3 linked regions of the Homo sapiens genome follow. The protein of the gene in region 3 purifies or fractionates together with the protein of the main gene of each other region. This does not show direct contact. Each region holds a gene or a part of one and is shown on either strand. Other genes may lie near its edges. The genes, in order: OCM, KLHL8 and WFDC1.

Region 1 (4,247 bases), on a different chromosome or scaffold from region 3:
GACCTGTGTGTGCACTTGGTGACAATGGCTTTGAGTCTGTCAACTCCAGACTGAGGTCAGCCTTACACACCCATAGTTCCCAAAGCTGAAAACAGGCCTGCCTCCAACGGTACCTGCTAATATCAGGGGAGCCTTTTCAGCTTACAGAGCACCCTGTATGTGTTTGTCTTAGTTCAGGCCACCATCTCCACCTTACCAGGCATCTAGAACCTTCTCCACACTTTGCCAACAGGGTTCGTTTGCAGAATTGAAATCTTAGTTAAGGTTTGTTGAAGTTTGTTGTTGTTTTTTTTTTTTTTTTACAATTGGCTGTTCCCACCCACATTCCCTTGAGACATAAATAGAAAAAAAAAAAAAAAGAGGTTTCATGAGTAAGACAAGACATTTGAGCTGCATCCACTTGATCCTTGAAAAGGAAATCTAAGAGGTTGTAACTATCACTTTTTCTAGCCTATATAAGGTAGGTCAGTAAGGTAGCAAAAACACATCTGTTGTTTTGCTCCTTCAACTCTTTTTCCTGATTCTTCCTGGGGGGAAACCGAAAACGGTGAGTAACTGGTGGACACATCAGACCCCAGACTCTTTTCTTCACTGCATGCATTCATATTAGGCTCAGGTGCTTAGACTCCTGTTTTCCGGTGGCTCTGACACCTGGAAGGATTTTAATCTCTGGGAGATGGGCTTTTCATCCATCTGCTTCCCACCTTTCAGGACAGGTGCATGCCTTCTTCCACAGAATGTCTGCAAGCAGCCCAAACTGTATCCTTTCCCACGTGGAATTTGCAACATTGCATCTCTCGGGCTGCTGTAGGAAAATGCCAGTGCATGTGTAACATGGTTTACGGCTGCCTATGCAAATGACTGATTATGTCAGTATAATTTTTATAAGAAAACAATTGAATCCTTCTTTGGGTCATTTTTTTTTTCCATTTTTGGCATGTATTCAAAAGAAGGCTCTGAGACAAAAAAGGCTGGGGTGTTTTCCGTATCTGGTTTTAATTTGGATATTCTGTCCCGTCACTTAATACAAAACCATGCTTATCACATTTTAAAAATTCTAGACAGGCCTGGCTCGGTGGCTTGCATCTGTCATCCCAGCACTTTGTGAGGCCAAGGCAGGCAGATCACCTGAGGTCAGGAGCTCAAGACCAGCCTGGCCAACATGGCAAAACCCCGTCTCTACTAAAAACACAAAAATTAGCCAGGCATGGTAGTGCGCACCTGTAATCCCAGCTACTGGGAAGGCTTAGGCAGGAGAATCACTTGAGCCCAGGAGGCGGAGGTTGCGGTGAGCCGAGATCACGCTCTTGCACTCCAGCCTGGGTGACAGAGTGAGACTCCGTCTTAATTTAAAAAAAAAAATAATCTAGACACACATACAGTTTCAGTGGGCCTGGGAAGATGTGTTTCCCCTGGATGTGCACATTCCTGTTTGTGGCTTATCGCCTCTCATTTATTCTGTGTGAGTAGGTAGAAAATGAGCATCACGGACGTGCTCAGTGCTGACGACATTGCAGCAGCGCTCCAGGAATGCCGAGGTAGAGGGGACGTGAGGCGGGGGTGGGATTTCCTCACAGCTTTGCACCTCCAGCGAGTCAACACAAAATCAAAATGTAGGCCAGGCGGCCAGACGCAGTGGCTCACACCTGTAATCCCAGCACTTTGGGAGGCCGAGGCGGGTGGATCACGAGGTCAGGAGTTCGAGACCAGCCTGGCCAAGATGGTGAAACCCCATCTCTACTAAAAATACAAAAAAATTAACCGGGCGTGGTGGTGGGTGCCTGTAATCCCAGCTACTCGGGAGGCTGAGGCAGAGAATTGCTTGAACCCGGGAGGCAGAAGTTGCAGTGAGCTGAGATCATGCCACTGCACTCCAGCCTGGGCAACAGAGCAAGACTCTGTCTACAAAAAAAAAAAAAAAAAGTAGACCAGGCATGGTGGCTCACATCTGTAATCCCAACACTTTTTGGAGGCCAAGGTGAGAGGACTGTTTGAGCCCAGGAGTTTGAGACCAGCCTGGGCAACATAGGAAGACTCCATCTCTACAACATAACAATAAAAATAAAAACTAGCGGGGCATGGTGGCATGTGCCTGTGGTCCCAGCTACTCTGGAAACTAAGGTAGGAGGATCACTGAAGCCCAGGAGGTTGAGGCTGTGGTGAGCTATGATCGCTACACTGCACTCCAGCTTGGACGACAGAGTGAGACTCTGGCTCTAAATAAATAAATAAATAAATAAATAAGAGGTTGGCTGGAAAATTCATGGAATCAGAGAAGAAAACTGCTATTTATTAGATAACTAAAATTATAGAGATCTGGGATCTGAGCACACGATTACACATCTGTAAGACAAAAGAAACCTACTAAACATGAAAGCAAGACATCACTGAAAGGCCAGGTGTCGTGCTCACACCTGTAATCCCAACACTTTGGGAGGCCGAGGCCGGTGCATCACTTGAGGTCAGGAGTTCAAGACCAACCTGGCCAGCATGGCAAAACCCTGTCTCTATTAAAAATACAAAAATGAGCTGGGCATGGGGGTGCACACCTGTAATCTCAGCTACTTGGGAGGCTGAAGCAGGAGAATCAGTTGAACCCGGGAGGCAGAGGTTGCAGTGAGCCGAGATCACGCCACTGCACTCCAGCCTGGTGACAGAGTGAGACTCTGTCTCAAAAAAAAAAAAAAAAAAAAAAAAAAAAAAAAAAGCGCCAAAGGCCATTTAGCCTGTTGAAATCCAGTGATTGCATTTCCCCCTACCAATTAGACCAGGGATGCTGGGGGCTCAGCCACACAGCCTGTAAAGTGGGCCAGGGGGAGGGGGAGGCACAGAAGAGATGAGGAGGGAAAAGGAAAATGGACAAAACCAAGTGGAGGAGGGAAGACTGGGGCGGAGGGGACATGGGATGCCATCACAGAGCCATCAAGTCTTGGCTGTCCCAAAATCTTGGACCAGTTGAGCATCCCCGTAGCTCAGGGATATTGTTGAAGTGTTTTTAATTATCTGTGTTTTTAGTACCTTGGCCCCAACATAGAATGTGATCCAACAAGCGTCAGAATAACCAATTCTCTGTTCTTCAGACCCAGACACTTTTGAACCCCAAAAATTCTTCCAGACATCAGGCCTCTCCAAGATGTCAGCCAATCAGGTGAAGGATGTTTTCCGGTTCATAGACAACGACCAGAGCGGGTACCTGGATGAAGAAGAGCTTAAGTAAGCTTTGTCCTGAGTCTGTCTGGTACCCGGCACTGCTGAGTGGGCCTGGGGTGCAGTGGGGGCCAGGTTGCTCAGTATTTCTTCAATGGCCAGCCTTGGTGTTGGTCATTCGGCCAAGCATCATTAAAGCAAAGGACATGAGTCAGTTGACCGCACATCTACCCATGCAAAGCCCTCAATATGGGCAGAGAAGACTGCAGGTGCAAAGATTCTTTTTTTTTTTTTTTTTTTTGAGACAGGGCCTCACTCTGTTGCCCAGGCTGGAGTGCAGTGGGGTGATCTCAGCTCCCTGCAGCCTCCGCCTTCCAAATTCAAGTGATTCTCATGCCTCAGTCTCCCAAGTGGCTGGGATTACAGGTGCCTGCCACCACATCCAGCTCATTTTCATATTTAGAGTAGAGATGGGGCTTCACTATGTTGCCAGGCTGGTCTCAAACTCCTGACTTCAAGTGATCCTCCTGCCTTGGCCTCCCAAAGTGCTGGGATTACAGGTGTGAGTCACTGTGCCCAGCCACAAAGATTCTTTCATGTAAGGGATTTCCTTTGGCAAATGGACTTTAAAAAACTAAAAACTTGGCTAAGCGCAGTGGCTCACGCCTGTAATTCCAGCTACTCAGAAGACTGAAGCACAAGAATTGCTTGAAGTCAGGAGGCAGAGGTTGCAGTGAGCCCAGATCGTGCAGCTGCACTCCAGCCTGGGTGACAGAGAGAGACTCTGTCTCAAATAAATAAATAAATAAAAATTAAAAACACTAAAAACTTAAAAATGGGCCAGGCACTGTGGCTCACACCTACAATCCCAGCCCTTTGGGAGGCTGAGGTGGGTGGATTGCTTGAGTGAGCCCAGGGGTTCCAGACCAGTCTGGGGAACATGACAAAACCTTGTCTCTACAAAAAAAAATACAAATGTTAGTGGGGCATGGTGGGGTGCACCTGTAGTCCCAGCTACTCAGGAGGTTGAGGCAGGAGGATTGATTGAGCCCAGGAAGTCGAGGCTGCAGTGAGCCATGATGGTATCACTGCATTCCAGC
Region 2 (3,657 bases), on a different chromosome or scaffold from region 3:
AAAGAGGCCAGGCTCGGTGGCTCATGCTTGTAATCCTAGCACTTTCAGAAGCCAAAGCAGGCCAATTGCTTGATCCCAGGAGTTCCAGACCAGCCTGAACAACACGGCGAAACCCTGTGTCTACAAAAAAACAAACAAACGAACAAAAATTACCCAGATGTGGTGGTGTGCACCTGTGGTCCCAGCTACTCGGGAGACTGAGGTGGGAGGATCACCTGAGTCCAGGGAGGTCAAGGCTGCAGTGAGCCATGATTGCATCACTGCACTCCAGCCTGGGTGACAGAGTGAGACCCTATTTCCCCCCACCCCCAAAAAAAGCAAGAGATGAGGGAGGATAAATGTTTCATAAAATAACAAAATGTTGTTTTCAGTCGCTAAAATTCACTTGACTATGTCTTTTTTTTTTTTCTGAACAAAATGGTTTATATTAGCCAAAGAAACAAGAGGGAGTTGAGCATTTTAAATAAATTAATTTTTGTTTACTCATGTCAAGATATGTCTGCAATAAAAATGTCACCCATTAGTCTATTTTTAAAAATTCTGTTTTCTCTGTTTTGAGGAGCTTTTATGGAAGCACCAGACTATAATATTGTTCTGAGCTCACTTCTGGTACTACACAATTCTCTATTAGAATCCCAGATCTCCACTTATTGGCTGTGTGAGCATGGCAAGTAATTTTCTAAACCTCTTTCCTTAGCTGTGGAAGGGGGATAAAAATAATACGTACTTCTATTTTACCAGAATTGAGGATTATTTGGTGTTGTATGTGAAAACATTCTCTAAGCTATAATCAACTATAATATTCATTGATATTACTAGTCACATGCTGTATTTTAAAATGCTGCCAGTACAATTTATTTTCTGGTGGATATTGCTATATAGATACTGTCAGCTGCTTTTTTTTTAAATGGGTTGGTCATGCAAGAAAGTATATTGTTTGGTTTGGTTATGAATGATTTAGTTGGTTCTTATGAGTCAGAGAGAGAATTATGGAAGAGGGTTGGAGGGACCTTGGGAAATTTTCTACTTCATCTCTCTGACTCTTAACCTGAATCTGTTAGCGTGAGCATAAATGGTCTTCCAAGGGTCTGTGAACTCTGTATATTTATACTTTTCTGGGGAGAAATTAAATGAAAATTTATACTTTTCTGGGGAAAAATTAAATTAAAAGAGCATCATGACCTTGTTCCCACTAAAGGTTTAGGAAACCACTAGCTTCAATGATCTAGGCAGGTTTCTTTAGTAAAAATGTTAGAGATTATTTTTAAAATTAGTTTTTTGTGGAAAGGAAAGAGAAACAGGTTATATTGCGGAAAGGAAAGAGAACAGGCTATTTTTGAAGCACTGAGTATCTGTTTTTCTTCCAAAGCTAGAAGTTGATATTTATGATACACTACCTTCATATGAATAATAGTGCTGCTACTTCTACCTGGAAGTGGTACCTTTGATTGATTCATTATCATTAGGCAGGTATTGTCTACTCCTCTCTTCTTCCCCACCCCCAGCCTTGATGGGCAATACAGTGGAGGCAGAGAATGGGACTTTAATACAATCCAGCATGTCAGAATATTATTTAAAATGCCAAAAGATAATTTGGCTTGTTTATTCTAAATTTGGATGTTCTTTGTTTTCACAACAAAACACCCAATGTTAAAGAAAATTAAGTGTTTAATCTTTCAAACTAGATGATGATATATACATAATCTGTTGTATGATATTTCTTGTATATCATAGAGTATAAAATTTTATTAAATCCTAATTGATGATCACTTTGACTTTTAGTACTGCTAGTTTGAAAAGATGGATATGTATGTTTTCAAGAAATTTACAGTTTGCTTTTGTAGATTATATTATAATTTGTGATTTTCATTTATAACATTTAAAACTTATTTGCTTTTTTTGAATTTCTGAATCGGACATACTTTTAAATCTGAGTTTATTCTTATAAGAATAAGCGTTTGGAATTTTGCCCTGTTTTCCTTGTATAATGATTGCTGGGCTATAAGGCTTTACAGTGTAAAACCAAGTTCTGTTCTGGATCAGTTACTAGTAGCATTCCCAAGGCTGGGAGAGTATGAGGTGGATCAAGTGATGCTAAACAAACTTGTGAATGAATCTGTCCATCAAGTAATGTCTTTTTCCTTGAGATCTTTTTTTCCTTTGATATTAATATTTTCATTTAAAGTTGAAATGTTTTTCAAAGTTCAAGGTTCTAAACCAATATTTGGGAATTTATAGAATAAAGTAGCAGAAGTGTGGTTCTTTGTAAAAATAGTCTGAGAAGTCTGAAATAGACCTCAAAGATTAGTAGTAGAGATGAATGCCAATATTGCAGCATACTTTATATATAAAAGATAAGTCACTACGTTGGATCTTTAGTTATTTTAATGCAGAGGATTGCTTAACTTTAATAATGAAAGTTTGAATTAAATTAATTAGATATGGAAAACAAAAGGGAATAATTTCAGCAAAAATTTTACCTATGGGAATCCAATCATTTTAAGATCAGTGATTTGTATGGCTTCTCCTACACTTAAACCTTAAAAAATTCTGGCCGAGCGGGGTGGCTCACGCCTATAATTCCAGCACCGTGGGAGGCCGAGGCAGGTGGATCACTTGAGGCCAAGAGTTCCAGACCAGCCTGGTCAACATGATGAAACCCTCTCTCTACTAAAAATACAAAAATTATCTGGGCATGGTGGTGCACAGTTGTAATCCCAGCTACTTGAGAGGCGGAGGCTGGAGGATCATGTGAACCCAGGAGGAGGAGGCTGCAGTGAGCTGAGATTGTGCCACTGCACTCCAGCCTGGGTGACAAAGCAAGACTCCATCTCAAAGAAAAAACAAAACCAAAAAAAAACCTTTAAAAATTCCTGAAACATTTCCTGTATAGGGAGAATATTATTAATACCACTATTTTGGTTCTCATTGTCATTTACACATAGGCACCTCCATACAGAGATAACATTAATTCTGTCTTTGGCCTAGTGATAAGAGCTTGGGCTTTGTAGTCAGGCAAGTCTCTATTGAATCCTCGACATTGCACTTCATAGCTATGAGACCTTGGTTAGGTGTCTTAACTTCTCTGGGCCTCATTATCCAAAACTGCAAAAAAATAGGAATTTTACCTCTTTGAGTTATCCCAAGGATTGAAATGAATACATGTAAGTATTTAACTCATGATGACAATTATATATATATATATATATATATATATATATATATATATATATATCTGTTATGTGCCAGTTTGTTAACTCATTTAAGTTTTATAGCAATCCTATGAGGTTGATACTATTATTTTCCTCATTTTTACAGATGAGGAAACTAAAGCTAATGAAACGTTATGTAACTTAACCAATATCATACAATGAATATACAACTAATAAGTAGATAGAAGCACCCAATTAATGCTTGCTGTTGTCATTAAAAAAAAAAAGATGACTTAGGGTATTACCATCTTTTCTATAGTGGGTTCCTAATAATTGCAATCTCATGTAGAGCATTATAAAGCATATTTTATTTCTTTGCTGGAAAAAATGTTGATTGCAGGACTGTGTTCCTGACCAAGGACTCAGGATCACATAATTTATAAAAGTAATAACATCTGTTTATTGAATCTTACTATGTACTAGATACAGAGCTAAATACTTTATA
Region 3 (2,390 bases):
CCATCCTTATATCCACTCATCTATTTGCCCGTACATCCATTCACCCAACCATCCATCCATCTGCCCATTCATCCATTCATGCACATATCCTTGCATTCATTCATCTATCTCTTCTTTCATCCATTCATACATCCATCCATCCACCCATCCACCCATCTACCCATCCATCCATTCACCTATGTATCCATTCATCCATCCACCCATATATCCATCTATCTATTCAGCCATCCAGCCAGCCACTATCCATCCATCTATCCATCCATCCATATATCCATCCGTCCATCCACCCACCCATCTATCCATCCATCCATCCATCCATCCATTCATCTACCCATCTATCCATCTATCCACCCACCCATATATCCATGCATCCATCCATCCATCATTTATCCATTCACCCATTCACCCATCCATCCATCCATCATTTATCCATTCACCCATCCATCCATCCATTCTCCCATCCATCTGATATGTCTTTATCAATAATTTACAGCACATATTTTCTAAGTATTACTCATCAGTCTGTGCTGGGGGTTGGAGCTACATTTGTGAACATGACAGACCCAGTCGCTGCTGTCATGCAGCTAATATCAAGCAGAAAATTCAGACATGAATATAGCCCAAGTGGTTATTTTATGAGAATAGTGACAAGCCTTCCTGACATCACATGCTGGATACTATGAGGACACCTTAGTCCAGGTTGTGAGAAAAGGCTTCCTAAGGAGGAGACATGAAAGCTCAGCCTAAAGAATAAGAAATAGTGGGCAGCAGAATGGCATGTGTGAAGCTCTTGAGGTCGGAAGCAATTTGGCCATCCCCAAAGCTGGAGTGTGTGGTGAGCTGTGGAGGTGGTGGGAGGTAAGACCAGAAACATAGACAGAGCTGGTGACACCAGCTGGGGGGCCTGGGGAGGGAGAGGAGGCACTGCAGGTGGGGACTGAGTGACCTCAGCTGGGGGAGGGAGGAGAGGGCCAGGTCACCAGGCTTCATTTGGCAGTTCCTGGTGAGCCACGGGGGGCATTAGAGCAGGAATAGATACATCTACCCCAACAGAGCTGTGTTCTTTTCACAGAAGGTGACTCAAAGAATGTGGCAGAACCTGGAAGGGGACAACAGAAGCACTTTCAGTAAAGCAACGGCAAGCAGGTGAGTGGGCAGAGAGCAAGAGTCATGGCCAGGGTAAATGTGGGCAGCCAGTGTCCTGGCAGCTTTCACCACCAGGTTGAGGAGCAGGAGGGTGAGAGTAGCGCTTTCCCTACTGGTAGAATTTGAAATTCCCTTCTGCAGTAAGTCCTCACCTAACGTCATCAATAGGTTCTTGGAAACTGACTTTAAATGCAACGACATACTATATGCACTGTATGCCATAGAAGCTTAACTCATTTGTTTGTTTTTTTAAGAGATGGGGTCTCACTCTGTCACCCAGGCTGGAGTGCACTGGCACAATCATTGTTCACTGCAGCCTCAGACTCCTAGGCTCAAGCCATCCTCCTGCCTCAGCTTTAGTCTCAGTAGCTGGGACTACAGACATACACCACCTCACCTGGCTAATTTTTTTTTTGTATTTTTTGTAGAGATGAGTTCTCACTATGTTACTCAGGCTGGTCTTGAACTCCTGGCCTCAAGCAGTCCTCCCACTTTGGCCTCCCAAAGTGCTGGGATTGCAGGCATGAGTCACTGTGCCTGGCCTTAACTCTTGTTTATATCCATTAGCCTATGGTAAAATTGTTTTTGTTATATAGTAGGTCATTTTGCTTAAAGTTGCAGTTTCCAATAAGCTATCCATGATGTTAAATGAGGACCTACTGCAATTTCAAGGCAGGAACGTAGGAGAACTTTGTGTGTGATCAGAAGCAGAAGCAATTCTGTATCCCTCTGAATCAAAAATCCAAGACCAGACTAGGTCGCAACTTTCCTTTTCATTCCTTTGCCTTGATGTCTCCAGGAAGTCTTGTCTATCTCTTCTCATTTCTGTCAAACAATTCTGTTGGGTGCCAACTATCTGATAGTCATGGTTCCAGCCTCTTGGTTGCTCAGCGGTAGTTCATGCCAGGGTGGTATAGTGAACAAATCCCACAGAGCCGCTGCCCTCAGGGAGGCCACATCCTGGTAGGGGACGGCTACACAAGCCAACAGATCAATCAATACAAAGACAGGTGTGGTGAAGAAGTGAACAGGCAATGTGGGGCAGAGTCCCTGGGCAGGAGCAGAGCCTGGGGCAGGGGCTGCTTCGTTTGGGGTCAGGGAAGGCCCTGTGGGGGTTGAAGTCTGAGCCAAGATCCAAGGTGAGAAGGTGCTGCTTGGGGAGGGTCTGGAGGATAGGCGCCCAGGTGGAGGGAGTTGGAAGAGTGAAAGTACTGAGGCAGGAGGGACGCTGGCTTTGGGGAGCC

Evidence for each region.
Region 1: the proteins of WFDC1 (region 3) and OCM purify together in Homo sapiens (affinity purification with mass spectrometry; one large-scale study listed by BioGRID and IntAct). This does not show direct contact.
Region 2: the proteins of WFDC1 (region 3) and KLHL8 purify together in Homo sapiens (affinity purification with mass spectrometry; one large-scale study listed by BioGRID and IntAct). This does not show direct contact.

Annotation. Positions count from the first base shown.
Region 1 is NC_000007.14:5,879,413-5,883,659, forward strand, and holds the start of OCM (oncomodulin-1), read left to right. Parts: upstream 1-1,385; 5' UTR 1,386-1,477; coding exon 1,478-1,538; intron 1,539-1,943; exon of another isoform or gene 1,944-1,978; intron 1,979-3,080; coding exon 3,081-3,213; intron 3,214-4,247. UniProt on the Homo sapiens protein: Has some calmodulin-like activity with respect to enzyme activation and growth regulation. Binds two calcium ions.
Region 2 is NC_000004.12:87,213,994-87,217,650, reverse strand, and holds part of KLHL8 (kelch-like protein 8), read left to right. Parts: intron 1-3,657. UniProt on the Homo sapiens protein: Substrate-specific adapter of a BCR (BTB-CUL3-RBX1) E3 ubiquitin ligase complex required for The BCR(KLHL8) ubiquitin ligase complex mediates ubiquitination and degradation of RAPSN.
Region 3 is NC_000016.10:84,325,810-84,328,199, forward strand, and holds part of WFDC1 (WAP four-disulfide core domain protein 1 isoform 1 precursor), read left to right. Parts: intron 1-1,072; coding exon 1,073-1,131; 3' UTR 1,132-1,146; intron 1,147-2,390. UniProt on the Homo sapiens protein: Has growth inhibitory activity.